Homo sapiens: one gene and its partners. The protein of the gene in region 4 purifies or fractionates together with the protein of the main gene of each other region. This does not show direct contact. Each region holds a gene or a part of one and is shown on either strand. Other genes may lie near its edges.

Evidence for each region.
Region 1: the proteins of OIT3 (region 4) and MYO1D purify together in Homo sapiens (affinity purification with mass spectrometry; one large-scale study listed by BioGRID and IntAct). This does not show direct contact.
Region 2: the proteins of OIT3 (region 4) and ALDH4A1 purify together in Homo sapiens (affinity purification with mass spectrometry; one large-scale study listed by BioGRID and IntAct). This does not show direct contact.
Region 3: the proteins of OIT3 (region 4) and MYCBP2 purify together in Homo sapiens (affinity purification with mass spectrometry; one large-scale study listed by BioGRID and IntAct). This does not show direct contact.
Region 5: the proteins of OIT3 (region 4) and ZNF77 purify together in Homo sapiens (affinity purification with mass spectrometry; one large-scale study listed by BioGRID and IntAct). This does not show direct contact.
Region 6: the proteins of OIT3 (region 4) and GALNT12 purify together in Homo sapiens (affinity purification with mass spectrometry; one large-scale study listed by BioGRID and IntAct). This does not show direct contact.
Region 7: the proteins of OIT3 (region 4) and GAS6 purify together in Homo sapiens (affinity purification with mass spectrometry; one large-scale study listed by BioGRID and IntAct). This does not show direct contact.

What each region holds. Positions count from the first base shown.
Region 1 is NC_000017.11:32,762,125-32,765,624, forward strand, and holds part of MYO1D (unconventional myosin-Id), read right to left. Parts: intron 2,958-3,500; coding exon 2,754-2,957; intron 1-2,753. UniProt on the Homo sapiens protein: Unconventional myosin that functions as actin-based motor protein with ATPase activity. Plays a role in endosomal protein trafficking, and especially in the transfer of cargo proteins from early to recycling endosomes.
Region 2 is NC_000001.11:18,896,056-18,899,555, forward strand, and holds part of ALDH4A1 (delta-1-pyrroline-5-carboxylate dehydrogenase, mitochondrial isoform a precursor), read right to left. Parts: intron 1,094-3,500; exon of another isoform or gene 1,016-1,093; intron 1-1,015. UniProt on the Homo sapiens protein: Irreversible conversion of delta-1-pyrroline-5-carboxylate (P5C), derived either from proline or ornithine, to glutamate. This is a necessary step in the pathway interconnecting the urea and tricarboxylic acid cycles.
Region 3 is NC_000013.11:77,320,595-77,324,094, reverse strand, and holds part of MYCBP2 (E3 ubiquitin-protein ligase MYCBP2), read left to right. Parts: intron 1-3,500. UniProt on the Homo sapiens protein: Atypical E3 ubiquitin-protein ligase which specifically mediates ubiquitination of threonine and serine residues on target proteins, instead of ubiquitinating lysine residues.
Region 4 is NC_000010.11:72,896,739-72,900,238, reverse strand, and holds part of OIT3 (oncoprotein-induced transcript 3 protein precursor), read right to left. Parts: intron 1,576-3,500; coding exon 1,201-1,575; intron 1-1,200.
Region 5 is NC_000019.10:2,938,472-2,941,971, reverse strand, and holds part of ZNF77 (zinc finger protein 77), read left to right. Parts: intron 1-2,564; coding exon 2,565-2,691; intron 2,692-3,500. UniProt on the Homo sapiens protein: May be involved in transcriptional regulation.
Region 6 is NC_000009.12:98,831,670-98,835,169, reverse strand, and holds part of GALNT12 (polypeptide N-acetylgalactosaminyltransferase 12), read right to left. Parts: intron 3,431-3,500; exon of another isoform or gene 3,422-3,430; coding exon of another isoform or gene 3,399-3,421; coding exon 3,213-3,398; intron 1-3,212. UniProt on the Homo sapiens protein: Catalyzes the initial reaction in O-linked oligosaccharide biosynthesis, the transfer of an N-acetyl-D-galactosamine residue to a serine or threonine residue on the protein receptor.
Region 7 is NC_000013.11:113,854,077-113,857,576, reverse strand, and holds part of GAS6 (growth arrest-specific protein 6 precursor), read left to right. Parts: intron 1-3,500. UniProt on the Homo sapiens protein: Ligand for tyrosine-protein kinase receptors AXL, TYRO3 and MER whose signaling is implicated in cell growth and survival, cell adhesion and cell migration.

The DNA of each region.
Region 1 (3,500 bases), on a different chromosome or scaffold from region 4:
AGACCAGAAGGATGAGTAAGAGGTAGCCAAGCAAGAGAGGAGAGAAGAGCAGTCCAAGCAGAGGGAACAGATGTGCACAGGCCCTGTGACTGGAAGGAGAAAGGGATCAGGATAATCTGTGAGGACTGAGAGAAGACTAATGTGCTGGGCTGAAGAAAGGGGGGCTGGGTATAGTATAAAATGAGGTGGGAGAGGTGGGCTGGAGCCAGACCATGTTAAAGTATTATTCTTGCTTCTCTCATTCTCCACATAATAGGTCCTATGGATTTTATTTTCTCAACACAGTCCATTTCAAATCATCCTCCTCTCCCCATTTGTACTTTCACTTTTCTGATTCAAGCTGCCCTCATCTCTTTCCTGGATTAACAAAATATCCCCTTAATTGACCTCTTTGCTTCCATTCTTACTCTAGCCCCCATAACATTCTCCATACTAAGGCCAGAGTGATCATTTTAAAAATGCAAACTTGCCAGGTGCAGTGGCTCATGCCTGTAATCCCAACACTCTGGGAAGCTGAGGTGGGCAGATCACCTGAGGTCAGGAGTTTGAGACCAGCCTGGCCAACATGATGAGACCCCATCTCTACTAAAAATACAAAAATTAGCCAGGCATGGTGGCGGGTGCCTGTAATCCTAGCTACTCAGGAGGCTGAGGCAGGAGAATTGCTTGAACCCGGGAGGTGGAGGTTGCAGTGAGCTGAGATCATACCATTGCACTCCAGCCTGGGTGACAGAGAGACACCGTCTCAAAAAAAAAAGAAAAAAAAAAAAAGACAAAAAAACGGCCGGGTGCGGTGGCTCACACCTAATCCCAGCACTTTGGGAGGCCGAGGAGGGTGGATCACAAGGTCAGGAGATGGAGACCATCCTGGCTAACATGGTGAAACCCTGTCTCTACTAAAAATATAAAAAATTAGCTGGGCGTGGTGGCGGTCGCCTGTAGTTCCAGCTACTTGGGAGGCTGAGGCAGGAGAATGGCATGAACCCGGAAGGCAGAGCTTGCAGTGAGCTGAGATTGTGCCACTGCACTCCAGCTTGGGCAACAAAGCGAGACTCCATCTCAAAAAAAAAAAAAGGCAAACTTGATGTCATTGCCCCTCCTTAAAGTCCTCCCTATTGCTCTCCATTGCACTTAGGAAAAATTCAAATTCCCCCAAAACTAAAAACCAAGCCTAAGACTTACAAGAGTAAAAAATGAAATAGACAGTAAACTAATCAACCAGCAAAACAACAACAACGAAAGTTAGACGTGAGAAAATACAACGCTTGCCACACAGATAACAAAGGGTTAAAGTTTATGATATGCTAAGAACACTTAGAAATTGACAATAAAAAGATAACAGCTCCAAAGAAAAATGCACAAAAGATATACCCAGGCAATTCTTAGAATATGTTAAAATACTCTACAAAAATATGATAAGATGCTCAAATATACTAGTAATGAAATAAAAGTAACAATAAAATATTACCATGCAGCCATAAAATCAGTAAATTTAAAGTTTAAAATAAATATATGGCAGGTGCGGTGGCTCACGCCTGTAATCCCAGCACTTTGGGAGGCCAAGGCAGGTAGATCGCTTGAGGTCAGGAGTCCGAGACCAGCCTGGTCAACATGGTGAAACCTTGTCTCTACTAAAAATACAAAAATTAGCTGGGCGTGGTGGCACACTCCTGTAATCCCAGCTACTTGGGAGGCTGAGACAGGAGAATCACTTGAACCCGGGAGGTGGAGGTTGCAGTGAGCCAAGATTGTGCCACTGCACTCCAGCCTGGATGGCAGAGCAAGACTCCGTCTCAAAAAATAAAAATAAAATAAGTATACCCTTTGACCTGGCAAGCTCACTCCTGGGAATCCATCCAGCTGAAACAAAAGCACTAGTATATAAGCATAGATGTATAAAGACGTGCAGCATTGTTTGCAGTTGCAAAAAAGGGAAGTAAAGTGGGTGACTTAAGAGTAAGGTGGTTAAATAAATTGTGGTACTATCACTGCAGGCTTAGTACACAGCCCTGGAGGACATTATGCTAAGTGAAATAAGCCAGGCACAAAAAGACAAATATTGTGTGATCTCACCTATATGCAATCTGAAAAAGTCAAACTCATAGAAGCAGAGAATAGAATGGTGATTACCAGAGGCTAGAGGAGCGGGGTGGATGGAGAAAGTGTGAGACGTTAGTCAAAGGGTAAAGTTTCAGTTAGACAGGAAGAATAATTTGTGGTGATCCACTGCAAAGCGTGGTGACTGTTAATAATAATACTAATAATATTGTTTCAAATTGCTAAGAGTGGATTTTAAATGTTCTCACCACAAATAAATGGTAAGTAGGTGAGGTAAGAGGTATGCTAATTAGTCTGATCTGATCATTCCATAATGTGTACATGTCCTGAAATATCCCACTGTACCCATAAACATATACAATTATTGTCAATTAAAAATAAATAAAACTTAAAAAAAATGGATCAGAGCTCAGTCAGTTGACTCTGGCGAAGCATTATTGAGTGAGAGAAGCAGCACGTGAAGCCCTCATGAGCGCCACCCCCAGTCAGCTTCCACTCTTCTCAGAACCTTTTTTGGCAGTGATGCTTACTTACATCTGGGAGTTTTACCGAGGCTTGTATGGCCAGAAAGTATCATTATGGTTTCTAAAAGCCTTAACCCTCTTTCAAGAATGTCTGAATACATGCTCACAGGATTTCACTCAATTTGCAACTGCGATCAACACCAGGTGACATAGGGTCAGTTACACTCTCACCTTGGCAAAGGCGTCTCTGCCGTAGCTGGCCTCTTGTTCTGTGTGCTGCTTGTCAATGATGTCACGGCCTGTGGCCACAGTCCGGTAAAGAAGGGCTTTCTCAACCATATCTGTCTTAGTAGAGAGCAATTCTGCTATGATAGATACTACTTTGCCATTCTCAATAAGAGGCGTGTCACCATCTACTACAAATTTTAAATTTCCCTGTATCAAAAGTGAAAAAAATAACACATTATGAAACATTATGTCAAGGATATATTTGCCAATATAAAATACAATTCAGGTGACCTTGTTTGTACCTATTTTCCTAAATACATTATACATCTCAACATATAAAAACAGTGTTTCATCTACTTTTTCCCTTTCTCCGGACACTCATCTATCTTTTTGCTTTCAGTGTATGTTTTTGATAGATAAAAGTTTTACATTTTTATGTAATCGAATCTATGAATCTTTTGCCTTAGGGTCTCTCTTTCTTTGGTGTCATACTTAGACCATTCCTACTCCAAAGGGTTTATGAGCATTTGATGCTTTCCTCTAATGCTTTTATAGTTTTTGTTTTCCTTAAACTTTTTATTTTATTTATTTATTTATTTTTGAGACAGAGTCTCGCTCTGTCGCCCAGGCTGGAGTGCAAGTGGTGCGATCTTGGCTCACTGCAAGCTCTGCCTCCTGGGTTCACGCCATTCTCCTGCCTCAGCCTCCTGAAGAGCTGGGACTACAGGTGCCTGACACCACGCCCAGCTA
Region 2 (3,500 bases), on a different chromosome or scaffold from region 4:
TGCTTGAGATGTCCTCCACTGGTCCAACCTCACATAGCCGGAATGGGGCTCCTATCGGATTCCTCTCATAGCTCTAGACTTTTCTGGAAGCACTAGTGAAAACCCTATTATAGAGCTCTGACTGACCATCTGTGTGCCCGCCAGGCCACAGGCTCCACACAGCCAGCCCGTACCCATCCCATTCACCACCAGGCACCCCAAGCCTAACACACTGACTGGCCACAGTAAGCACCTGAGAAATACAATCAATGCATGAGTGTCAGAGCTGACACCAGGCCCCCAGGACTGGACTCCAAGGCCAGTGCTCTTCTGCTATCACCTGGGGCTGGACACTGGCCCCTTGGGTTCCCCAGTGGCTAAGGTGAGGGGTGGCCAAGGACAAGGAGAGGAGAAATAGAAAGGAAATTATCTTTGCTTCATGCAGCCTCCTGACTTTTCCAGCCATTATCTGGAGCCTGATAAGGCTAATCCTCCCTATCACCGACATAAAGGCAACACTAGGTGAGCAGAGAAAGTGCAGGGCCCAGGGCGGGGCCTGGAGGGAAAGAAAGGCCCAGCCAGGCAAAGTGGCTCACACCTGTAATCCCAACACTTTGGGAGGCTGAGGAGGGTGGATCACTTGAGGTCAGGAGTTTGAGACCAGCCTGGCCAACATGGTGAAACCCCGTCTCTACTAAAAATACAAAAATTAGCTGGACATGGTGGCACATGCCTGTAATCCCATCTACTTGGGAGGCTGAGGAAGAGGAATTGCTTGTACCCGGGAAGAAGAGGTTGGAGTGAGCCAAAATCGTGCCACTGCACTCCAGCCTGGGCAACAGAGTGAGACGATGTCTCAAAAAAAAAAAAAAGAAAGAAAGACCCAATGCCAGGGATGAGCTGCTTCAGCCACTGCCCAGCAAACATCAGGCAACATTTGTCAAGCACTTGCCACCACATGCCAAGCATTAACCTAAGTGAGACAGGATCATCTCACTGAATCCACCACATAAGCGTATGAGGAACGCATGACAAGTTGAGCATCCCTGATCCAAAAATCCAAAATCCGAAATGTTCCAAAATCTGAAACTTTTTGAGTGTCAACGTGACGCTCAAAGGAAATGCTCATTGGAGCATTTTGGACTTTGGAACTTGGGAGTAGGGATGCTCAACTTGTTCGGCAAATTCTCCAAAATCCAAGCAAGTCCAATATACAAAACACTTCCGGCCAGGCGCAGTGGCTCATGCCTATAATCCCAGCGCTTTGGGAGGCGGAAGAGGGCGGATCACTTGAGGTCAGGAGTTCTAGACCAGCCTGGCCAACATGGCAAAACCCCATCTCTACTAAAAGTACAAAAATTAGCTGGACGTGGTGGCGTGTGCCTGTAGTCTCAGCTACTTAGGAGGCTGAGGTAGGAGGATGGCTTGAGCCCAGGAGGTGAAGGTTGCAGTGAGCCAAGATCTGGCCACTATACTCCAGCCTGGGAGGTAGAGCGAGACTCCGTCTCAAAAAAACAAAAACCCAAAAAACGAAACACTCTGTTCTGAAGCATTTCAGATGAGGGACACTCGACCGTAGAATGATCTGTTTACGGATGAGGTTCAGAGTTACTCACTCCTGGCTCAGGGTCACAGCTCATGAGTGACAGAGCAGGATTTGACCCCAGCTGTTCCTTACTCAGGAGACTTACAGTATGGCTGAAGCACCTGGAACATCTCAGAGGCCCATGGTCAGGTGGGGCTGATGGGACACGTTCATCCTCCTCACCATACAGCTAGAACCTCATTTCCACCTGAGGAAAGCCGCCGCCCCAAGGTGGGCAGTGACTTGCCCAAGGTCACTCAGCTGTCCACTGGCACAGCAGCTCAGCCCAGGGACTCTTCACTCCATGCCATGACCTCTGCCAGGAAAGGGAAGGTTTGGGGATTAAGGAGGCTGCAAGAAAGGGAGAAGTCTTTTCCATCCCCTGAGGTGAGCAGGGTCAAAACCCTAACAGAAGGTCGGACGCAGTGGCTCACGCCTATAATCCCAGCACTTTGGGAGGCTGAGGCAGGAGGATCACTTCAGCCCAGGAGGTTGAGATCATCCTGGCCAACATGGTGAAACCCCGTCTCTACGAAAAAAAAAAAATACAAAAATTAGCTGGGTATGGTGATGTGCGCCTGTAGTTCCAGCTACTTGGGAGGCTGAGGTGGGAGGATGACTGAGCCCAGGAGGTTGAGGCTGTAGTGAGCTGAGATCATGACACTGTACTCCAGCCTGGACAACAGAGTGAGACTCTGTCTCCAAAACAAACAAACAAACAAACCAACAATAATAACAGAAGAGGTTTGGCATCTGGGGTACTTAATTGGAATAAACAGAAGAGACCGAGGACATCTGAGTTCCATACCTCCCCTCCTGCCACCATCCTTCACTGCTGGGCCCTGCTGTCTTGATATTCCTGATCGAAGATGATCACTCCAGGAAGCCCATTGGTGGGAGAGGGGGATCATCATAACCACAGCAGCACTTACTGAGCATTTCAGGTGCTGGGCACTCCAAAGTGCTTTCCATGTATGAGACCATTTAACACGCAGGACAATCCTATGAGGTGACTACTACTGTCATCTTTATTTTCCATATGAGAACATAAGGGAGCCCAGAGAGGGTGAGTAACCTGCCCGGGGCCACAGAGCTGCCAAGAGTTGGAGCCAGGATCCAAGCCATGCTGTGTTCTGGACCATCTCAACAGCAACCGTTCAACGCCTACTGTGTGCCGGGCCAGATGCAGGGCACAGGAGGCAGGCTGCTCCCAGGGGTGCCACTGCCAAGCACTGCCTCAATGGCGCTTTCACTACTTTAGAAGTGTGATGATAATCACAGGTTTTAATTATTCTCCAACTCAAATACTCACAGAGCACGCATTCGGTACCAGCATCCAGGAAACCACTGATCACATCACCGCTAATCCTTGCAGCCACCTGCTACGTGGCTGTTAATACAATCATCCCCATTTTGCAGACGAGGATACTGAAGGGACAGAAGCTGCCTTGCCAAGGCCACAAAGCACTGGATGGGCTCACCGAGGTGGCCAGCAGGACATTCCAGGCCAAAGGCACTGCCCCAGCCACTGGTTGGAGGAGTTCAAGAGCAGAGAATGTCTAAGGAATGGTGGGAAATGCCAGCCCTCGACCCAGGGCAAGCTGTGCCCATCCAAGGGCTGGGCAGACTAGGAAAAGCATTGTGTGCTTTTGATATTTTGAAAATTAAACCATCAGGTAGCCTGAGAAGAGTCCAAAACCACCCAGGATCACTGCAGGGGACACGGTAGTAACCAATTCCGGCCCACAAGCCCCCTGATGTCAGACGGGCTGAGCTGGAGTCATGTCTGGGCTTGGCACAAGAAATAAGGAACAGAAGTGAACTCTTATAAGCCTACTACATGCCTGGGCTGGCTATTAATCTGTATCCTGCCTGTTTCCAAAGAGAACTGAGGATACTGATGGTAAAGTTGATTGAGAAAAAAACAGGAAGTCAG
Region 3 (3,500 bases), on a different chromosome or scaffold from region 4:
TTTTGGTAACTCAAGGGGATTTCAAAGTTGAGGGAAGGATATTCAAGTATAGGAGGTTGGGTGGGATATGCAAATATGGGAGGCTAAATGGAGAGACAGAGTGAAGAAGTGAGAGAGGGGATAATTGATAGGAAAAGGTCAAAGGGATCTCAGGGACAGGAAGAGGTCAAAGGGATCTCAGGGATAGAGTTAAGGTGACAGGTGGAGAGGTTAGCCATTGAAAAAAGGAGCAGTTAATATAGAAGGGGTGGAGGTGAGTACTTGTAAATATAAAGACTGGGAGTTTATTGAGGATAGGCATCATATCCTATTCGTTTTGATAATCCCAATGTCTAGCACATTTTTTGGCATGAATTCTGTAAACATCAAGTGCCTGCTCTGTGCCAGGCAGTATTGCAGATGCTGAAGATGTAGCGGTGAGCAAGATAGACAAAGTCTCTGCCGTCTTGGAAAATCCACTCCAATGGGAGAAATAGACAACTCATAATTTCACTTAGTAATAAGTAACTGTGAAGGCAATAAAACCTATTTCATGTGATAGGGCAATTTGTAGTGGGGCTATTTTAGGTAACATGGTCAGGAAATGTCTCTTTGAGAGTTGGCATTTAAATTGAATTGCCATGATGAGGAGGCAGATGTAGAGGAAGAATGTTCTGGGAATTTATAAAGGCCTTGAAATGGGAACAGGCTTGTGTTCAAGAAACAAAAACATGATGAGTGAGTTATCAGTCAATGTCAAATGAATTAATTACTCTTTGCTTTAGGTGTACAGTTGAGAAGTTGAGAGTTTCAAACCTAATGGACTCAGTGACTTTGATGACAGTCTAACAAAGTGGTTAAGAGCTTGGGCACAGAAGCTAGACTGGTTTTGCATCCTGGTTTTGTCATTTGCTAGCTGTGTAACTTTGAGTATATTACATAACTTCTATGCCTCAGTTTTTTAAATATGTAGAATGGGGATCATAATACTAACATGAATTGTTTTGTAGATTAAATGAATCAATGTATGTGCTTGGCATGTTGACTGCTATGAAATATTAGTTACTGTTTTTTGTCTGTTTGTTTTTGCTGAGAATGAGGGGTGTGGGGACTTGAAGAGAAGGCAAGGATCATGTCTTACTCTTTTATTTTTGGTCTCAGTGACTGTGTAGAATGTGGGAATAACTCTTTCATTTATCCAGTGACTGAATAGATATATTTTTGGATGAATGAGGCCAATCAAAATCGGAACATTCTGTTGGGGAAAGGGGTTGGACAGGAAATGTATGAAGGAATGTATGATCTGTTCTGAATGTGAATGGTGGTATAACCATGCACTTGGGAGGCACCATAGCACAGTGGCTAAATGTTAGAGCACTGGAGGTAGACTCCCTTAGTTCACGTCTACCTTTTTCTACTTGTGTTAAATTGGGCAAGTTAATTAGACTTTGTCTGTTTCTTTACTTGTAACTTTGTAGTGTTATCAAAAGGACATTATGTCCGCACCTGGTAAGTGCCCATGAAATGTTACCTGTTGTTATTATTAAAATCACATTTAAAATTCCAACCAGCATGGCACTGTATGTTTTTCCACACAAAATAGAAATGGAGAAAACCTAGTTGAGTTGATTTAGGGTTAAAGAAAAAAGAAATGGAAGGTTTTGGGGACAGTGTTTGACTATATGGTAAAAAGGAAAGTGATGCCAAGAGGGAACTGATAGACTGGAAGATAAAGAGGAGTCAGAGTATCTGGGTCCTGAAGTCCTAGAAGAACAATGTTAGTGAAAACAATAGAGGGGATTGTGACCAAAATGGGGAATCTAAACTTAACCCCCTTAGTTTTTTCAGCTGCTTTATCTCTTTCTTGTTAGAAATGGTATTTGAGTCCATCCTTCAGATGCATGGGATTTTGGTTGTAAGAGGTTAAGTAGTCATTTTAGCAAAAGTTCAGGGATTATTTTATTTTACTTATTTTGAGGCAGGCTGGAGTGCAATGGTGTGAACATAGCTCACTGCAGCCTCAACCTCTTGGGCTCAAGTGATCTTCCTGCCTCAGTCTCCTCCAGTAGCTGGGACTACAGGCATGCACCACCATGCCTGGCTTGTTTTTTATTTTTTGTAGACACAGGGTCTCACCATGTTGTCCAGGCTGGTCTTGAACTCCTGAGCTTAAGTGATCCTCCCACCTCCACCTCCCAAAGTGCTGGGATTATGGGTGTGAGCCACCATGCTCAGCTTGCTCAGGGATTATTACTTGGCACTAACCATTGGCCCTATAAAAATTTATAAGACACAAATTCTAGACTTGAGTTTACTGTCTATCTGGAAGTGCAAGATACAAAGGCAGATACTTATAGAAGTGTTAAATGAAATGACCAAGAAAGTATAACCTACTATGACAAAGGCATGGCATTCTAGGCTGGCTTAAAAGCATCAGCAGAGACAGGAAAGCACAGTTTGTATGTAGGTAACAGTAGGAATTCTGTTAGAGCTAGAATGCAGGTGTCATGAAGGACAGTAGTGGAATTCATTCTGGAAATGGAGGCTTTGGCTAGGATGGGGCATCTTGAAGACCAAGGTAAGAATTAGATTTTATTCAGTAGACACTGATCACCCTTGATGGTTTTAAGCTATGAAGAGACGTTATTTATTGTAGGAATATGTCAGGAAGTAATGCGGGATTGAATCTGTATGTGTACATCTGTATTTGTGCATAGGTAGTAATTTTCTTCATGTAGCTGTTATATCAGTGGAATCCTGTATAGTGTATAAACACAAGTTAAGGCAAAAACTGCTCTATTGGTATACTGGTAGGTAGAAATGTGAAATGAATTAGTTTCCTAACTCAAGAGAAGAAAAAAATCTTGCCTCTGGGCTTAAAAGGAAAATAAAAATGTCAATCTAAAAATACTTTTGTCCTTTAATATATTTGTTTAAAAAATCAACAGAATAGTCTCACTTTTTTCTCAAAAACCAGATTAAACATTTAGGTTTTCTGAGGAGGGGTTAGGTTAATTGAGGTTTAATTTATATACAATAAAATTCATCCTCTTTAAATGTTCATTTGAAGAGTCCTGAAACTATCACCACAGTCAAGTATAGACTGTTTCCATCACTTCATATAAAAAGTTCTGTCAGGCCCTCCTACCCCTGGTTACTGACCGCTGCAAATCAGTTTTCTGTCACTAATATTTTACCTTTTCTAGAATGTCATATAAATCTAGCTCCTTAAGGGCAGGGCCCCCAGGTATTGTTCATCTTTCTGTCTTGTATCTGTATTTCCTGTAAGTGGAAGCTAGACCTTAAGGGTTTATTAGGTGTTCATTAGAAAATTTTTTAGCAAGAATATTGTATATGGCGCTGGGTACTGCATGTTGCATCCCATCCAGAGGTTGTGAGGTTGTCTCACTATTTAATATGTTAAATCTGATTACTTGGGTAAGACGGTACCTACTAGATTTCATCTCTGTAAATGTATGCTTTTTCCATTTGTAAAGAACAAGTAATCACAGGGTAAAAAT
Region 4 (3,500 bases):
GCAATCCTCTCACCTTGGCCTCCCAAGTAGCTGGCACTACAGGCATAAGCCACTGCATCCAGCTGACCCTCTTCTTGAGAGAGCCTCATAAGTGCAGCCTGGGGGATGAGTTTCCAGCCACCATCAAGGGAATCCTCATTGTTCAGGGTTTATATAAACCAATGGAAAACAACAATCTAGGGCATCTTCTGTCATCTAGATCAATGATTCCCAACTTCAGATCCACAGGCCCTTGAGTGGCCATAGAGTTTCTGCAAATCCAAAACCTCACCATACAAGAGCTATAGACTAAGAAAGTGTTATGTCCTACTCTTCTAGTGTTCTATTTAAAAAATGAATACAGACATTGACAGGATTAATAACACAGAAATTAAAAGTATTACTGACATAAAGTAGCTTCTTCCCATTGTATATCACTTAAAAAAATCAGTGGACACTAAACACAATCCAATCACATGGATGTCTGATTATCTATCTATCATCTATCTATCTATCTATCTATCTATCTATCTATCTATCTATCTATCTATCTATCATCTATCTATCTTAAAAAGGGGTTCTCCATACTCAAAAGTTGGAAATCCACCATTTAGATAATCTAAATCAGTGTTTCATTTTCTTTTTTTCTTTTTTTTTTTTTTTTGAATCAGAGTCTCACTCTGTCACCCAGGCTGGAGTGCAATGGCACGATTTTCGCCTCACCGCAACGTCCACCTCCCGGGTTCAAGCAATTCTCCTGCCTCAGCCTCCCGGGTAGCTGGGGTTACAGTTGCCTGCCACCACGCCTGTCTAATTTTTGTATTTCTAGTAGAGACAGGGTTTCACCATATTGGCCAGGCTGGTCTTAAACTCCTGATCTTGTGATCCACCTGCCTCAGCCTCCCAAAGTGCTGGGATTACAGGCGTGAGCCACTGCGCCTGGCCCAATGTTTCATTTTCTAATGTTTTGTTTGAATGGAATTCAGACAAAATTAAAAAGAACTGATCAAAGTCATAGCTCCTTTCCCCTTCTATTTCTTCAGGAATTTTTCAGAAGTTCTAAGAAGAGATCTCAGAAATCAGAGGTATCTTTAGCCCCACATCAATGTTGTTCAGATTGAGATATAGTTGCCACTGTAACTGCATATCCTATAATTGGCACTTTTGGACTCCACCTGTGGCCTTGTTGGTGGAGAAAAAGAGCACAGGGAAGGTACTCACGACCACAGTAGACGTGGAAGCAGACGCTGGGCTTGGTCAGACGATACACATAGTAGCCTCCAGGGCAAGCCTTGACTTCCACCGTGGTGTTCCAGAGACAGCAGTTCCCATTGAAGCTGGCACAAGCCTGGCGTTGCACAATGCCGTCGCCTTCTAGGGGGTGGCTGCCATTGAGCCAGACAGGTGCGTGGGTTCCACAGTGGTTTTCTGGTATGCAGAAGGTAGGCATGGCATCTCCCGCCATGCCCGTGAAGTGGTACCACTCCCCATTCACATGGTTGTCACATAGAGGAGGACCTTGAGACTCATCCAACTGGTGGTCAGTGTTCCTCCAGGGCTCATTCAGGCTGATGTAAGCAGAACAAGGATCTAGGGCTGGAAATGAAAAAGATACCTCAGAGTACCTGGAGTGTTTCGGATCACACCACCAACAGCCCAAGTCCAACTTCTTGGTCTTGCATTTGGACATTTTTGAATTCCAGAGAGAAATTAGTTAAGGTCACAAAAAATAGCTGTTTAAGGTTCCTCAGGTTGATTTAAACATGTTGCATAAATGCCCTTTTCAAAAGTATTTCAAACCTAAAGTTAAGTGTTAGCATTGAACTGAATTTTTATCCAGAGTAATTATTTGATAGAAGGATAGTTGATCAGACCAAGGGAGGTTAGGATTAAAGACTCACTGAACTCTGCACGAGTCAGACCACACTCTGAGTATTTTGTTCATACATGGAGACTGTATTATTATTATTTTTGAAACAGGGTTTGGCTCTGTCACCCAGGCTGGAGTGCAGTGGTACAACCATGGCTCACTGCAACCTCCGCCTCCTGGGCTCAAGTGATCCTCCCCACCCAGCCTCTGAAGTAGCTGGGACCACAAGCGTATGCCACCACACCTGGCTAATTTTTTTTTTTTTTTTTGGTAGAGATAGGGTTTTGGCATCTTGCCCAGGCTGGTTTTGAACTCCTGGGCTCAAGTGATCCTCCTGCCTCAGCCTCCCAAACTGTTGGGATTACAGGCATGAATCTGGTGCTCGGCCGGAGACTGTATTTTATGAAAGTAATTGACAAATTTGTTCAGAGAAAGTTGAACAGACTTAGAAGGGGTCCTAAAAATTATTTACAGGAGAAGTTGAGAACTATCATTTTGAAAAAAGAAGATGGAAGAAAATGCATATTAGTTTTTAAAAATCTGGAACAGGCGTGTGAAAGAGGAATTAGCTATTCTGTTACAAGAACAAGAATGAATTATGGGAAAGCACGTTTCAGTTCAGCTATCCAGTCATGGAGAGGCTGTGTCACAGTGCAGTTAGCTTCCAATCCTTGGAAATTTTCAAAAAAGTATTTGGCTGGCCATTTGTAAAGATTATAGGTGGAATTTTGCATTATTAGAAAGTTTGACTTGATCAGGAATGTGTAAAAGCTCATTCCACTGAAAAGAAAAAGGCCTCGGGCACATGTCACCTACTTTGAAATACAGAGTATACTAGCATGTTGTTACCAGAAATATTCTCAAAGTGAATTTTGGTATATATTTTACCAGCTTATTGAAAATACCAAGAACTTTGTGTATTCACAGTTAACCATGGCATTACTATCCTAGCTGTCATATAGCCAAGTTTCTCAGGCATACATATTTAGTGCATAAATTACAAGGACAAATATCTCAACCAAAACATTTTATTGTATGTCATGAAAACATTGGAAAACAACATTTTGGCCAGGCACAGTGGCTCACACCTGTAATCCCAGCACTTTGGGGGGCCGAGGCGGGTGGATCACCTGAGGTCAGGAGTTCGAGACCAGCCTGGTCAACATGGTGAAACCCCACCCCTACTAAAAATACAGAAATCAGCTGGGCGTGGTGGCACGTGCCTGTAATCCCAGCTACTTGGGAGGCTGAGGCAGGAGAATTGCTTGAACCCGGAAGGTGGAGGTTGCAGGGAGCCGAGACCACACCATTGCATTCCAGCCTGGGCAAGAGAGTGAAACTTCGTCTCATAAATAAACAAACAAACAAATAAATAAATAGAAAAACAACATTTTAATGACTAAAGAACCAATATCTCCAATATTCTCATTGCTCCCCTTAACTCCAGGGAAACTAATTAATGAATCAACATAGGTAAATTGTCCTTATGAAGAATCTATGAAACCAAGAAATTCTAGAAAGGAACATTGGCCAGAGAGTACTATATTATCCTTCTTAATGCACATGAGGTTGACTTACGTAACTGATATCATAGGCAGGAAATTCACATTAGGGCCAATACATTTTGTGGGCAGGGAATTCAGTATTAGCA
Region 5 (3,500 bases), on a different chromosome or scaffold from region 4:
AGCCCGAGAAGGCTGCTGTGGAAAACTCTCAAACTCGGAAGACGTTGCATCTTCCATTAGGATGAGGGGAAAGGCGCACACACAGCCCCATGCCATATTGTGAGGTGGGCGAAGGTGTGGATTGAAAACATTCATGAAACTAGCACTGACTTAGGCAGGGTGCAGAGTTTGTGACAGTGGGGGACCCTGCTCCGTCTCCTGTTAGTATCTGCGCATCAGACAGATGCGCATTCTGTAATATACGACCCACAGTACAGAGAAGCGGCAATTCCGATTAGGGGACTGACGAACAATTTATCATGAGGATAATCATTAACTGATACCTGTTTTCTGCATGAGACCCTAATCATTAACTGATACCTGTTTTCTGCATGGGACCCTTTGTGGGACAGAAAAACTTCTAGATCTTCTAGAATCCACCACTCACCCCTTTGTCCTTTAACACGGGCTGAAAGTGGTGATTTGGCTGTGTTCTTACTTATTTTTATTTTTTTTTTGAGACAGTCTCACTCTGTCACCCAGGCTAGAGTGCAGTGGCTTGATCTCAGCTCACTGCAACCTCTGCCTCTGGGTTTAAGTGATTTTCCTGCCTCAGCCTCCCAAGTAGCTGGGATTACAGGCATGCACCACCACACCTGGCTAATTTTTGTATTTTTAGTAGCGGTGCGGTTTCACCATGTTGGCCAGGCTGCTCATGAACTCCTGACCTCAAGTGATCCTCCCGCCTTGGCCTCCCAAAGTGCTGAGATTACAGGTGTGAGCCACCTCACCCAGCCTTTTTTTTTTTTTTTTTTTTTGAGGTAGGGCGTCTCTCTGTCACCCACGCTGGAGTGCAGTGGTGACATCGTGGCTCACTACAGCCTCAACCTCCTGGGCTCAAATGATCCTCCCACCTCAGCCTCCTGAGTAGCTGGGACTCCAGGTGTGCCCCACCATGCCTGGCTAATTTTTGTATTTTTTGTAGAGACAGGGTTTCACCATATTGCTCAGGCTGGTCCCAAGCTTCTGGGCTCAAACAGTCCTCCCACCTCAGTCTCCCAAAGTGCTGGGAGTATAGGCCTGAGCCACCAAGCCCAGCTGCTGATAGCATTTTATTATAAAATTGAACACATGTAGAACTTTTGTAAGACAATTACAGAGTCAGTGGAAACGTCCTCAAGTGAACAGTGTGTAACGACAGCCAGGCCATGTCTTCGAAGAAGCCTTGGCATCCAATTTGAAATGATGTGTAATGGTAGGCTTCTCCCTCCAGATCAGGCCAGTATTCTACATTCTTTTTTTTTTTTTTTTTTTCTTTTTTGTGATGGAGACTCACTCTGTTGCTAGACTGGAGTGCAATGGCGCCATCTCGGCTCACTGCAACCTCTGCCTCCTGGGTTCAAGTGATTCTCCTGCCTCAGCCTCCTGAGTAGCTGAGACTACAGGCGTGTGCCACCACGCCCAGCTAATTTTTGTATTTTTAGTAGAGATGGGGTTTCACCATGTTGGCCAGGATGGTCTTGATCTCTTAACCTTGTGATCCGCCCACCTTAGCCTCCCAAAATGCTAGGATTATAGGCGTGAGCCACCACGCCCGGCCTATCCTAAATTCTTTTAGCCTTTTTTTTTTTGGTAGAGACAGGGTTTCACTGTGTTGTCCAGGGTGATCTCGAACTCCTGAACTCAAGTGATCTGCCTGTCTTGGCCTCCCAAAGTGTTGGAACTACAGGCGTGAACCACCACACCTGGCCAATATCCTAAATTATAAGGAAATAATCTCCTTGCTTTTCTTCATAGTTGTATTTTTAAAATTTAATTTAATTTAATTTTTTTTTTTAAGAGACAGGGTCTTTGCTCTGTCACCCAGGCTCGTCTTGAACTCCTGGCCTCAAGCGATCTTCTCACCTTGGCCTCCCAAAGTGCTGATATTATAGCTGAATAAGAAATAATAAAATTTGAGCAAGTCATGTCAATTTCCATGTTACCTGAATGATTGATTTATTTTATTTTTTTGAGATTGGGTCTCACTCTGTGGCCCAGACAGGAGTGCAGTGGCACAGTCATAGTTCACTGCAGCCTTGAACCCCCGAGCTCAAGCGATTGTCCCTCCTCACCCTCCTAAGTAGCCGGGACTACAGGTGTGTACCACCATGGCTGGTTAATTTATTGTATTTTATTTTTTTTGTAGAGACGGGATCTCACTATGCAGCCCAGGCTGGTCGCCAACTCCTGGCCCTAAGCAATCCTCGCACCTGAGCCTCTCAAAGTACTGGGATTGCAGGCATGAGCCACCAGCCTTAGCTTAATGATGTTTTCAGATTTTTCAGTGTTTCCCCACCCTCATACCTGCCGTTTCTCAGTAATTCTTTGTAAGTCTCTGGCAGAGGCCGTCATTGCGCTTTGCTCCCTGTTGGGAAGGTACTCACGGCATTGAGTGTACTGCACTTTTTCATACTGTTGGTCACCTCTCACAAGGACATAAGCTCTGTGTGGCTCAGTTCCCCAGGCTGTCAGCCTCACCCCTCTTCCTGCGCACATGGGGGAGGCGGTGCCTTTGCTGAAGTGGGATGTGTGGAATGTTTTAGGACTGCGTGATCTTTGAGGAAGTGGCTGTGAACTTCACCCCAGAAGAGTGGGCATTGCTGGATCATGCTCAGAGGAGCCTCTACAGAGATGTGATGCTGGAGACCTGCAGGAACCTTGCCTCCTTGGGTAAGGGTGGTGTCATTCCCTCACTGCCTCCTTGGGTAAGGGTGGCGTCATTCCCTCACTGCCTCCTTGGGTAAGGGTGGCGTCATTCCCTCACTGCCTCCTTGGGTAAGGGTGGCGTCATTCCCTCACTGCCTCCTTGGGTAAGGGTGGCGTCATTCCCTCACTGCCTCCTTGGGTAAGGGTGGCGTCATTCCCTCACTGCCTCCTTGGGTAAGGATGGCGTCATTCCCTCACTGCCTCCTTGGGTAAGGGTGGCATCATTCCCTCACTGCGTCCTGGAGAGCAAAGAGACCTTGGTTTTCTTTTTTTTTTTTTTTATTTTTTTGAGACGGAGTCTTGCTCTCTCGCCCAAGCTGGAGTGCAGTGGCACGATCTCGGCTCACTGCAAGCTCCGCCTCCCGGGTTCATGCCATTCTCCTGCCTCAGCCTCCTGAATAGCTGGGACTACAGGTGCCCACCACCACGCCTGGCTAATTTTTTGTAGCTTTAGTAGAGATGGGGTTTCACCGTGTTAGCCAGGATGGTCTCGATCTCCTGACCTCGTGATCCGCCCGCCTTGGCCTCCCAAAGTGCTGGGATTACAGGCGTGAGCCACCGCGCCCGGCCTAAGATACCTTGTTTTTCTTTTTATTTGAGCTCAAAAATTGAAATATGTTGGAAAAGAGATAGACATGATCCCAACACCCATGGAACATGGGAGTCAAAATGCTTCTCCATGAAAACAAAGTTTTGTGTATGATTGATATTTAGGTTTTCTTGATCACCAGTCCTTGGCTGCCCACATTTTATAAGTCTGAGTAGAGTATTCT
Region 6 (3,500 bases), on a different chromosome or scaffold from region 4:
CCCTTTCATCTGTTCATCTGTCATCTCTAAGCATATCCCGCCTTCACCTCTGTGCCCCACACTAGGCTGGGCCTGGAGGCATAGATGTACCCTACGGTCCCTGCCTTGAGGTGGCTCCCAGGCTTCTCAGCAGGTAAGTACTATGTGTGTGCTAAATATGTTAACTAAGGTCAGCCAGGGCCCTGGGAGAACACTGAGGAGGGCAGGGGCAAAAGGGCAGGACTAGGTTCCCTGGAGGAAGCAAGGTCTGCAGGACAAAGGACAGTTAGCCAAGAAGAAGAAGGGAAATGGAATGGTTCTCCAGCATGAGCAAAGGCTTAAGGGTGGGAGAAATCCAGGGACATTTAGAAGCATAGAGAGCAAGGAGAAGAGAGAAGCAAGAGACCACGTTCCGAGAAGAAGGCAGGCTCCAGGCCATGGTCATCTGAGGAGGTGTGATCTCACAAGGCAGGCACTCACAGATGCCACTCAGAGGCCAGTATGCAGAAGGCCCTAAAGGCAACTCTGGCATCTGAAAGTGCCCCGAGGGCCAGGTCCTCTTGAGTGGTTTCCTCCACTAGGACCCAGCTAGCCAGCCTCAGGCTGCTTTTTCAGCCAGCCTTGTTTCCCGCCACCCACCACCAGGTTTATCTGGAAGCCAGCACTAACCAGAAACGGCCCACGGCTTCCAGCCTACACGGCAGAACACTGTAAGGTCAGCACGTCCCAGAGTTGCACAGGCAAAAGGATGAATTCAGAAATAGGGAAAGGGCTGGGCACGGTGGCTCATACCTGTAATCCCAGCACTTTGGGAGGCTGAGGCGGGCAGATCTCCTGAGGTCAGGAGTTCAAGACCAGCCTGGTTAATATGGCGAAAACCTGTCTCTACTAAAAAAATGCAAAAATTAGCTGGGTGTGGTGGCCCACAGCTATAATCCCAGCTACTCAGGAGGCTGAGGCAGGAGAATCACTTGAATCCAGGAGGCAGAGGTTGCAGAGAGCTGAGATCATGCCACTGCACTCCAGCCTGGGTGACAAAGCGAGACCCCAACTTGAAAAAAAAAATAGGGAAAGAGAACATTGAGAGCGCAACCACTGAAAATGTTAACATCCTGCAGCATCGGGGCCTGCCCTGGACTCCAAGCATGGGGCCAACTGAGAAGACAACAGCAACATCCCCAGTGGAAGGGAAGGTTCTAGACTACAAAGCACCTTCACGTGTGTTTATCCTAAAAATCTAGGAAATAAGCAGGGTGGATATGCTGGTACCTATTATACAGATGAGATAACTGAGGCACAGGGATATTATGGGATGGGGAGGATAGGTGCCCTGAGCATGTGGGGTAACGGGGCAATTAGAATTCATGGACCCCCATGAATTCATGACAGGCTGCCTAAGTAGCCTAGATTAGAGCCTCCTGCTCTGTGTCTCAGTTTCCAAACCTATTCAGTGAGGGATTGAGCAGGATGTTCTCACTAAGGGCTCCTACAGAAGCCTGGGTGCCATTCTTAATTCCTTCCTTCCCCAATTCCCACTCAATTTCTTCCAATTCTTCCATCTTAACATCTCTGGAATCCACAGTGCCCACCATCTCCTGAACCATTGTTTCTGACCTGGAAGACTGCAGAGCCTCCTAATGGTATCCCTGCCTACAACGGTCCCCCCAGGGCCCTCACCACATGGCACGCAGCACATGCTCAGGTCACTTCCTGCTCCGATCCCTTCAGTGGCTTCTACCTGCTCAGGGTCAAGTCCAAACCCCTTCCCTTGGCCCCGCCCATCTCTCCAGCCTTATCTCTGGACACTCTCCTTGCTTGCTCCACTCCTGCCAGCAGCGGGTCATCTTAAGGTCAGGACTCTGGTGAAAGAATTCAGAAGCCCAACTGCCAAATGTGGACGCAAAACTCAGAGCCTACTTCCGGTTCAACACACCAGCGGTGAGGCTGAAGTCCTGACCTCCTCCTGCCCAACTCCCACATCTGTCTCCCACTTGCTTCTGAACTTGGAAGGGGAGGAAGAAGCCAGGCTATCACTTCAAAACCTCCAGAATGAGAGCTGCTGAGCCTCCCTTGGGCCCATTCTACTCAGAGCTTGACTCACCCACTGGCCAGAGCAGACTCCTCCACCTGCCATGGATCCACCCACACCCCAGGTCAAAGGGGCCTAAAGATGTTTCCTCAAGAATGAGCATATGACCAGCAATCCCACTCCTAGGTGTATACCCAAAAGAATGGAAAACAGGGACTCAAGCAGATAAAAGTACACCGATGTTCATAGCAGCATTATTTAACAATAACCAAAGGACAACCCAAGTGTCCACCAACAGAAGAATGGATAAACAAAATGTAGCATATATGTACAAAGGAATATTACTCAGCCATCACAAGGAATGATGTTCTCTAGGAAACTTGAAAACATGATGATAAGTCAAAGAAGCCAAGTACAAAAGGACAAATATTGTATGATTCCACTCACATGGGGCGCCTGAAAGAACAGAGGTTCCCAGGGGCTGGGAAGGGGAGAATGGGAAGTTATTGCTTAGTGGGGATATTTTCTGTGTGGGATGATGAAAAATTCCTGGAAATAGGTAAAGATCATGTTTGCACAATACCGTGAATGTGCTCGATGCCACTAAAATTGCATGCTTTGTTTTATTTATTTATTTTTTTATAGAGACAGGGTGTCACTCTATCGCCCGGCTGCAGTACAATTGCGTGATCATAGCTCACTAAAGCCTTGAACTCCTTGACTCAAGCGATCCTCCTATCTCAGCCTTCCAGCTAGCTAGGCCTACAGATACACACTAGCATGCTCAGCTAATTTTTATTTTTTTGTAGAGATAGGTTCTTGCTATGTTGCCCAGGCTGGTCTCAAACTCCTGGACTCAAGCAATCCTCCCACCTTGGCTTCCCAAAGTACTGGGATTATAGGCATGAGCCACCATGCTCAGCCTAAAATTGCATACTTCAAAATGGTTAAAATGGTAAATTCTCTATGATGTATATTTTACCACAATTTAAAAATTAAATAAATAAAATATACCGATATAAAATTGACATGTGTAGCAGACACGTTTAATAAAAATAAACAAATACTCTGGGCAAAAAAGTGGGAAGAGGGGAGGTAGTTAAGCTGACAGCTAACCATTCCTCCCGAGGGCCTCCGCTCACAGGTCAGCCAGATTCAATGAGGCATGCTTAAAAAACAAGTCACCCAGAAGTCAGCTCCTGACCTGATGACATCGACGGGGGATTGCATCCGTATCCTCTCCCTCTCAGGAACTGTGTGCCACGTGAACACCAGCCTCCAGTCGAAACCGCCGATCTGGGGCTCCCCGGAGTTCCCCAGGTATTCGAAGGTGTTCCAGTCGATCACATCAATCACCGGGCACACCACTGCCGACTCCTCTTCATGGATCCTGAAAGCACCCAAGACATCCATCCGTCTCTCCTATGCAGACGGGCAGCAGGAAGACAATTGGGAAATTCAAGGGTGAATTCTTGTCTTCCTTCCAATAAGA
Region 7 (3,500 bases), on a different chromosome or scaffold from region 4:
TTCCTCATGCTTCATTTTCCCCTGTTTTCTAAGGTTAAAACTGAGAGCTGTTTCTCCAATGCAAAGCTGCTTGTTTAAGGGTTTCGTATTTGATGTTGGAAATGCTCTGGACTCTTCCATGGTTTTTATATTCCAGTGATTTCACTGCAAACCTGGTGTGTACGCCTTGTAAATTTTGACCCTGGCCAAGTGAAAGGTTCATTTTAAAAGTTTTAAAATAAATTTTAAAGGGGAGCTGGAAGTGGAATAAGTTAAGAACAGTATCAGTTTTGCCTTTCACTCTGACAGAGGCACTCTCTGCTCTGACTGACGGGTGTTGATTAAAAGTATAATATTCAAAAGAAATAGTAAAGTGCATTGGGCCTTGTTAATGTTCTACTAATTTTCTGGGGCTCCGTTTTCAAATTATAGGTGAAATTTTTTTCCTTCCAGTGTTAGTGCCTATGATAAGAAAATACATTTTCTCCACATCTGTCCACAAACCTGCTAGACCCTGTTTTGTGACTACCTCCCCTTGGAACTTGGGGCTCCATGGAAAACACACAGCTTGACCCAGCCAGCCCTCAGAGAGCCTGGGCCGGTCACTGCAGTGGCTGGATTCTCAGCATAAAAAGGCCAAACGTTCGGCCAGGCTGGGACTGGCTCCCATCCAGGACCAACTGTCCACAGTACAGTAAGGCCACTCTCTGAGTCAACATTGTTTCTTTTCTGAATTGCTAAGTTGACCGTCCCTGCAGAAGCAGAGAGGGCTGCGGTGTGGCATTCCTGCCCACTCCAAATGAGGGCAGCCCGGACGCGGGAGCTCTCAGGGAGGCGCAGTGGGCTTTGGGTGTGTCTGGACTGTCTCCACCACACCTGGAAGATACTGTTCACTTCCTTTTTACACTTGTGGGAAATACATGACAGTGTTTACGGGCAGGCTGGCTTTCCGTTTATTTCAACCCTGACAATTGAATAGCAGCAGCAGATGATGAAACTGTTCACTTCCCGATCACTCCCGTTCTCAGATCCATCACTTAGCTCGTCCGTCGCTCAGCTCGTCTGTTAGTCTGAAAGATGAATCGTGCACGGGTCCTCCTGAGAGTGCTGTTCTCGGGGTCTCCATGTGTGAAGTTGTTACATCCTCATGACAACTGTGTAACAGCTGTCACTGAGCCATTTTACAGATGTGGAAACTGAGGCCCTGAGAGGCTGTGGAGGGCTACAGTGTGTCCTGGGCATTTGAGCCCCACACTCTGTCATTAACTCCTGTGCTCGCTGGGACTGGGGGAGAGCAGGACGCGGCAGCACCCCCGGCCCCACTGTGTGCTCCTCTGTGTGCAGGCGACTGTGAGCATACTGGCACCCATGTGAGGGCTGAGTGGTGCTGGTGTGGGCGCATAAAGCACAGGGCGGCTGCGGGGAGCTGGGTGTGTGTCAGTGGCTCGGAGCATTAGTCTCGTGAACATGGTCTGCCAGGTGCGTCATGCTGGGCTACAGAGCCCATGGCTCCACCATAAATGGTGGTTTTGTGTTTGAACTTGAGTGTTGCTGCTCAGTGAGGCCAGAGGAAGGCACCAACCTGCAGGCCTGGCCGGTCCTCACAACACGGAAGGCAACCAGTCCACTAGAGAGACATGTGTCCCGGCCACTGGAGGAGTCCAAGTGACCTTTAAGTCTCACCAGTCCTCAGAGCAACCCAGGTGAATTTGGGGCCTGAGCTTGGTCGTCTGGCCGAAGACCAGCTCAACTTGGATAAAGCTGGAGGAGAAGCCTGTCCCTCAGGCAGCTGCCAGGGCATCTGTGATTTCTGCTTGCGTGCACTCTTGGCGACTATTGGTGGTGGTCGCAGTCAGGGCATCTGGTTGCCTTTACTGTCCTTACACCAGCTGGGCAGAGCTCAGGCTGGGAGCCCAGTGGGAGAGGCCGGGGCGTGACTCCCGGCGCAGAAGCGGCAGTGGCACACCGGCGTCCCAAGCACAGCTGTCCCTGCCAGGCCCCTGCGCGTTGGATCTTTGGGTTGAGTCATGCTCGATGGTGCAGCCATCCTTTCAAGGGAACTGAGCTGTCCAGCGTCCCATGGAGCAGCTCCCCGTGGATCCGGAGAGGCCGTAAATAAACCTCCCCATTTGTAAGCCGGGAACACACATGAACTTTGCAATCGTGTTTGTCCTGGGATCATAGAACGTGGTGGCTGGCAAGACCCAGGCATCCTCATCCTGTGCTGCTGTGAACAGAGGCCGGTAGCTTATTGAGGGACCAGTCCCAGTTCGCTTTCTGTGGGGAAGACTCTGATGGAAGCCTAGGCCCCAAACTCCAAGGTTAGCACATCTTCTTGGGGGGATTGACACCTCCAAAGGTGAACTTGGGTCCAAGGCACGTGTGTGCGACCTGAAGCATGGGTGCCGTGTGCAGGAGACGCCCTCACCGGAGATGGGGACCGAGTCCACACGGCTCTAACTGCAGAATCACTGGCCCTGTGCCCACGACTATTTTATTTTGCTGTTTTATATGATCACAAAGTACACTGTCTTGTTTTTCCCAAAGCATTTGCAGTGAGACATCCCACTTCCTCTCCACGGCAGCTGTTGCGGGCACGAGGCTGCTCCCAGGACAGCGATGCCACCGGGGCTGGGGTGGGCACGGAGGAACCCTCTTCCTTCCTCCTCCCCGCCCTCTGCTCCCCCACAGACTGGCCTGTCTTTAGTCAGCACTTTCCCAGGCTCCCTTCTGCCCACCACGTGCAAACAGTGGCGTGTCCTGGGCCTCTCTCCTTGTAGTGTTTCTTGTGGCCAGCATCCCTCCCATCCAACAGCTGTGTGGCTTCCTGACTGGCTTCTCTCAGGGCCCGCAAGGATGCTGCCAAATGGCCAGAGACAGTCACTGCTCTGCACTTCAAAGCAGGCAGCCCTCGGTGGGGCTTGCCCTGAAAGACAGCGGGCCTTCCTCGATGAGAGCCTGTGCTGGCTCAGGGCCTGTGGGGGCTGCAGCTCTGTTCCTTCCCTGCGTCCACGCTCACATGCTGAATGTTGTGCACCACAGGACACCCTGCTGGGGGCTGTCGGGAGCATGCTCTGTGTTTGGGGCAGAGACGGGCAGAGTGAGTCTCAGCATTACTGCCGTGCAGGGTTGAGTCTCAGCATGACTTCCATGCAGGGGGAGTCTCGGCGTCACTGCCATGCGGGGCGAGTCTCGGCGTTACCGCCGTGCAGCTGCTGGAAGCCACTCGAGCTCCTCTGTCTCGTTTGCCATGAAGCCCATGAGAGACACTGATGTGTGTCTCGGGGCTTCTGTGAGAAGAGCTTGGTTACCCACCGGGTCAGGCACCACGTCGGTGCTGTGAGGCATGGAGGGTGCTCACAGCTGTGCAGTCAGCTACAGAGGCCTTTCCCAGCATCCACATCTGACCGGGCAGTCACACCAGGATGAGCTCCCAGGAAGAGGGCTCCCAGCAAGGGAGGGCGCACCTGGGTGTGAGCTTGGAGGAGGGCAGAGGCACCTGTCACCGCTGACCCTGGGTG